2 separate regions of the Homo sapiens genome follow, and region 2 is linked to region 1. Evidence: fine-mapped expression QTL. A gene starts in region 1. The other region holds a variant in brackets. All regions are shown on one strand. Distances are from middle to middle. Region 1 holds the start of MGAT1 (alpha-1,3-mannosyl-glycoprotein 2-beta-N-acetylglucosaminyltransferase). Region 2 overlaps RASGEF1C (RasGEF domain family member 1C).

Region 1 (2,905 bases):
ATATAGACATGTCACAGGTAATGGAACTCTAACTGAACTGCTTTCATGTTCGTTCTTAGACCTTGGCTGGACTCCTGTATCATGTACCAGGCCCATAATTTCAGGACGGAAAAAAAAGAAAGGTAGTCAGAGAAGATACACTAAATAATTCAAGAGTTGAGAGAATAAGACCTAGGAGGGAAGGGATGCAGGTTATTCATCCTGGAAAAGAAGAGCTAAATACAAGTGCCACAAAAGGCATGAGGCCTGGGATTCAGGCGATCCAGCCAGCAAGCCAGGCAACTTTGGACAAGTCACTTGACCCACTTGTACCTTAGTTCTCTCATCTATAAGGTGACAGGGTTGATTTGGTTCATCACAAGGTCCCACTGCCTGGATACTGACGACAGTGACAATTTCCCTACTGCCCCGAACAGTAATGAGTTTCCCTTGTTAACACAGGCCACTGAGGTCAGGCATACCGCAGTGCTTCTAACAGTGAGAATGAGACACAGAAGCAGGGAAATGGGTGAGCTCAATGGTCCCCAGAATTGGGAAGGACCAGGACGCAGTGATTGCTGATGGAAGGCAGATCCTGGATGATGTGAGCACGTAAGAGCAAAGGCTACACGGCCTGAAAAAATACCGTAAATGACTGAAAATAAAGCTGGGCAACATCTCAGCCAGTGATGTTCTAAAACAAAACGGCAGACCCACTACAGCAGCAAGGGTTAACCAAAGTGAAGCTTCAGCCTTCAGGGAGCCGGCCAGCCACAGTCCCTCTACTTCAGAGTTTATCAGACGCGGGCACTGCACGTCCCGGGGCTCTCTACTCCACACACGTTAGCAAACAGGAAGAAAAGTTTTCTTGCCAACTTATTATATATATATTTCAACACTGAATCAACATTTCCTTTCTGCTGAGGAGAATCAGCCTCTATTAACTTGGGGAAAGGATGCTGGAGTGAGGTTAGGGGGGAAAGGCCACTCCCCAATCCCACCCCCTCCCTGCCCCGCACGCACGGACGCCCGGGGCCGAGTTTCACAACATCCTCCCCAGTCCGCGGAGCCCGCCCTTCCTCTAACAGCTGGAGGCCCGGGATTCCGAAAGCAGAAGGCGGAGTTCCAACCTCTCGGCTCGGGAAGGGACTAACGCGCAGCTGGCACCGGGTCGGACCGGGCCGCTCCCCAGCCAAGCCCCCTCTCGCTAGCACTCATGGGCACCGGGGCTTTGGGGCGACCCGACGTCCCTTGGGCTCCCTCTCGGCGCCCGCGAGGCCTCCCCCGGTCTGACCTCCGTCCCCGGACACCTACTCACCAGGTCCTCCCGACGTCCTGGCCCCGAACTTGGCCTGCTCCGGGGCGCAGGGAGCGAGCCCGGTGCCCAGGCGCGTCCCAAGCGCTGCCGCGGCCGCCTCGCCTTTCGACTCGCCAGCCCTTTCTGCGGCGCGCCGGGGCCGGACGGCCGGGCGGGCAACGTGGCCCTTCCCCGGCAGGCGGGGCGGGGCGGGGCGGACTGAGGGGCGTGACCGACAGCCCCGCCGCGCCCCGCCCCCCGGCCGGCGTCCGCCAGGCCCCCTCCTCCTGGCCCGCCTCCTTTCCCCGCCGCTTCTCAGTCAACCCAGGACCCAAGTTTTCCCAGGACCCCAACTTCGGGAGTCGGCTTTCCGGCTCCCTGGCGCAACCCTGAGGGTGGACGCCCGACCCCACCCCTGCCCTCGGCCCTCCAGCGCAGCTGCCCAGCCTGGAGCCGCGCCTGAAGTGGGCCCGCAGTCCAGGAAAGGCGTTCACCAAACCCTAGGCCAAGGGCTGGGAGCCAGTCCCCCCACCCCAACCCAGGGGAGGCTGAGGAGCCCGGGTGGGAGCCCCAGGGTCGCGTGGGGCAGGGACAGAACAGGAACCAGGGTGCCCGACGGGGGGCCGGGGGGAAACACCTGTGCCAAAGCAAGCCGGGGCCAGCTGTGGCTTCTTCCCTTTTGTTTTTCCTTGGTGGGTGGGGAATGAGAGCTTCAGTTCTGAGTAAAGAAAGCGAAGAGAGACCTACCAGCAGGGGAGGCCCACCAGCCCTAGGCGGGAAGGACTCGGTCACAAGCTTTGGCGGAAGCACCATGGAAAAGCCTAGAACGGGTCTGCGCCCGGCTGGTGTTTTAAAGGGGAGGAAGGTGCGGACCTGAAGAGGAGGTGGAGGTGGACCCAGGCCCACCGAGGGGAGGGAGGGACAGCTCTTCCATAGCAAATACCTGTCGCTGAGCCAGGAGTAAAGTCTGGCCGGGAGGAGGACAGACGCAGAAGACCAGGGGCTCCAGCGCACAGAGCCAGTTTCGCCAGCGATCAGGTCTGAGGCCTGGATTCCACGAGGCCGGTGCAAGCCAGGAGCCAGCCCCACTCCCTCGCCCAGCTCCCTCCGGCCTGGCCCTCTGCAGAAGCCTGATGCCCACCCAGCTGTCTCACCATGGGACCCCAGGCGGTGAGGGTGGGTAGCCGAGGACTACAGGCTGCTGGGTAGCTGACTTCCCCAAGAAGGGCTGCTGCCATGTGATCAGGACCCACGCCCCTGACATCAACCCCTCCCCCGTGTTCCAGAGCACGGAGCAGCCCGGAACTCTGCGGCCTGTGGTTACTGACTGACTGCTCACTAACTTGTTTCTACATGAAACCACGAATCGTGCAGGGTTCTAGAGAAACAAAGGGCCGCGCGCACCCGCAGGCCCCTGCGTGGAGGCGAGGACCTAAATCAAAACTGCTAAGGGGTCACCAGGCATGGTGAGGGGCCTCACGGGCCAAACCCTCCCTCGGCCTGTCCTTCAAGCCTCAGCAGCTCTGCGGAGTGAGCGTTATCATCCCCATTCTACAGATAACTAGTTTGAGGCTCAGGGTAAGTGCAAACGTGCTGCAAGCCACCAGACCTGGTGGGGAGCATAGCCAG
Region 2 (2,905 bases), 660 kb before region 1:
CGGCTGTACCAGTGAAAACCCACAAGCTCTGCTGTGCTCTGGGAGCTGGCGTGCTCAGACCTTCCTGGTGTAAAAGTCATCCAGGACATCCAGGACTCCTGACTTACGTTTCATATTGTGATTGTAAGGGTGGCAATTAATTCTATTTTTTTAAAAAGCCACTGATGGGGCCACACAGTGAGTTAAAGCACAGTTAGAAATGACATCTGTAGTGCCAAGGTGGTCAGTTTACAGACCCTGTTCCTGCTGGGGTCCCCACATCCCTCAGCATGGGTGGCTGGCATTAAACATCTGCAAAATGGAAATCCATCGAACTTGCAGAAGAAAAGCAGGTGGCTGGTCAGAGCGCGTCCTGGGGGCTGGAGGGATGTTCTCCCTGGGCCAGGTGTGGCAGAAGGGACAGAGGTAAAGAAGGCTCCCGAAGGCCCCTGTGAGGACCACGCGCGTGTCTCAGGAAGACACCTGTGAGCTCTGAGAAGAGGGAGCAGTCCCCCTCTTCAGGTTATGGAGACTGGTGCACGAAGTACCTCGCACAGTGCCTGCTGTGGAGAAAGGACCCCCAAGGCCAGCACTCGCCACGGGGAGCTCGCCACCTGCTAGGGCCAGACCACAACACAGGCAGCAACTGCTGTTAACCAAGGCTCTGTGTGTGCCAAAAAGACTTGCCAACTGCACCGCCATGGTTCCCCATGGCTTCTGTGCTGGCTGCAGCTGGGGCGACCCTCTACCTGCCCATCCAGCCCTGCAGCTGAAACCACGTCCCAACAGCTGCTGGAAATGGTCCCACTGCTTTAGCCTCAAAGGCTGTGGTGGGTCCACGGCCCCAAATCAGAGCCCTTTCTGCCCTTGCTTGAATATGTGCAGAATTTTACACATTTACACATTCTCAAGAGTTTGAGACCAGCCTGGGCAACACAGTGAGACCCTCATCTCTAGAAAAAGTTTTTAAAAATTAGGTTGACGTAATGTCACACACCTGTAGTCCGAGCTACTTGGGAGGCTGAGATGGGAGGATTGCTTGAGCCCAGGAATTCAAGGCTGCAGTGAGCTGTGACTGCACCACTGCACTCCAGCCTGGGTGACAGAGCAAGACCCTGCCTCTACCAAAAAAATAAAAATTAAAAAAATATACTTAACATAAATTTACCGTGTAAAGTTCAGTGGCATTAAGTACATTCACACTGTTGCACAAGCATCACCACCGTCCGTCCACAGAAGTTTTTCATCATCAATTGAAACCCTGTACCCAGTAAACACTAACTCCCCAATTTCTCCTCCTCTCCTTCCCCAGCCCCTGGTAACCACAGTTCTACATTCTATGTATTTTTACCATTCTGGGTACCTTATATAAGTGGAATCATAAAACATTTGTCCTTCAGTGACTGGCGTATTTCATTCATCTTTGTCAAGGTGCACCACTGTTGTAACATGCGTCAGAATTTCCTTCCTTTTTAAGGCTGAATACTGTTCCACTGCATGCACATACCATATTTTGTTCATCTATTCATCTGTCAGTGGGCAGTGGGGGTTGTTTCCCCCTTTACCATACTGTTTTCCACAGCAGCTGCACCATTTTATTTATTTTTATTTTAATTTTTATTTTGAGACGGTCTCACTCTGTCACCCAGGCTGGAGTGCCGTGGTGCAATCTCAGCTCACTGCAACCTCTGCCTCCCGGGTTCAAGCGATTCTCCTGCCTCAGCCTCTCAAGAAG[C/G]TGGGATTACAGGCATGTGCCACCACCGTGTCCGGCTAATTTTTGTTTTAGTAGAGATGGGGTTTCACCATGTTGGCCAGGCTGGTCTTAAACTCCTGACCTTAGGTGATCTGCCCGCCTCAGCCTCCCAAAGTGCTGGGATTACAGGCGTGAGCCACCGTGCCCGGCCCGCTGCACCATTTAAAATTACCAACAGCAATGTAAAGGGTTCCAATTTCTCCACATCCTTGACAATGCTTGTTGTTTTCTGCTTTTTTGATAATGGCCATCCTAATGGGTGGGAAGTGGTATCTCATTGTGGTTTGGATTTGCATTTCCCTAAATATCAGTGATCTTGAGCATCTTTTCATTTGCCATTTGTATATATTCTTTAGAAAAATGCCTGTTCAAGACTTTTCCCCACTTTTTTCAAGCAAAGAAAATTTAATTCATAGAATTGGTTCCGTGACAGGATGTAATTACCCCACCCCTGAGATTTAAGGAACAAAAGAGAAGCCGTGGCGTTTCAAGACCCAGATCAGAGGAGAAGCCCCACAGAACTGGAGCTCACGCTTCGAGCATGGCTGCTGCTGGGACCTCTGCAGGGGCATGAGGCAGCTAGCCCCAAGAGTCCTCTTTTACCCATTTTTGAATTGAGTTGTTTGGGATTTGTTTGTTTTTGAGTTTTAGGAGTTTGTTAGATAGTCTGGATATCAATCCCTTATTAGCTATGTGATTTGTAAATATCTTCTCCTATTCGGTAGGTTATCTTTTTACTTTGTTGATAGTGTCCTTTGAGGCACAAATGTTTTCCATTTTGATGAAGTCCAATTCGTCTATTTTTGTCTTTTGTTGCCTGTGTCTTTGGTATCATATCCAAAAAGTCACTGCCCAATCCAATATCATGAAGCTTTCCCCCAATGTTTTTTTGAGATGGAGTCTGGCTCTGTCACCCAGGCTGGAGTGCAGTGGCACAATCTTGACTCACTGCAACCTCTGCCTCCCAGGTTCAAGTGATTCTCCTGTCTCAGCCTCATGAATAGCTGGGACTACAGGTGCATGCCACCACACCCGGCTCATTTTGTATTTTGTATTTTGGTACTTTTAACACGGTTTCACCATGTTGCGCAGGCTGGTTTCCAACTCCTGAGCTCAAGTGATCCGTTCAAAGTGTTGGGATTACAGGCATGAGCCACTGTGCTTGGCCAGCTA

What was found. PIP is the estimated chance that this variant, and not a neighbour inherited with it, causes the effect.
Region 2: its variant is the best candidate, but not a certain one, in a credible set for the expression of MGAT1 in Th1/17 cells (Schmiedel 2018, PIP 0.89).

What each region holds. Positions count from the first base shown.
Region 1 is chr5:180,801,383-180,804,287 of GRCh38, forward strand. It overlaps MGAT1 (alpha-1,3-mannosyl-glycoprotein 2-beta-N-acetylglucosaminyltransferase), which reads right to left and starts at 1,424. Exons shown (of 2, transcript NM_002406.4): 1 at 1,298-1,424. RefSeq lists enhancers at 736-1,443, 1,444-2,150, 2,294-2,403, 2,858-2,905 and silencers at 1,254-1,613, 1,784-1,863, 1,874-1,923.
Region 2 is chr5:180,143,538-180,146,442 of GRCh38, forward strand. The region is part of intron 1 of RASGEF1C (RasGEF domain family member 1C); the gene reads right to left. Among named protein-coding and RNA genes, the nearest start is that of RASGEF1C, 64 kb to the right of the region's middle. The variant C/G (reference allele first, on the strand shown) is at 1,715.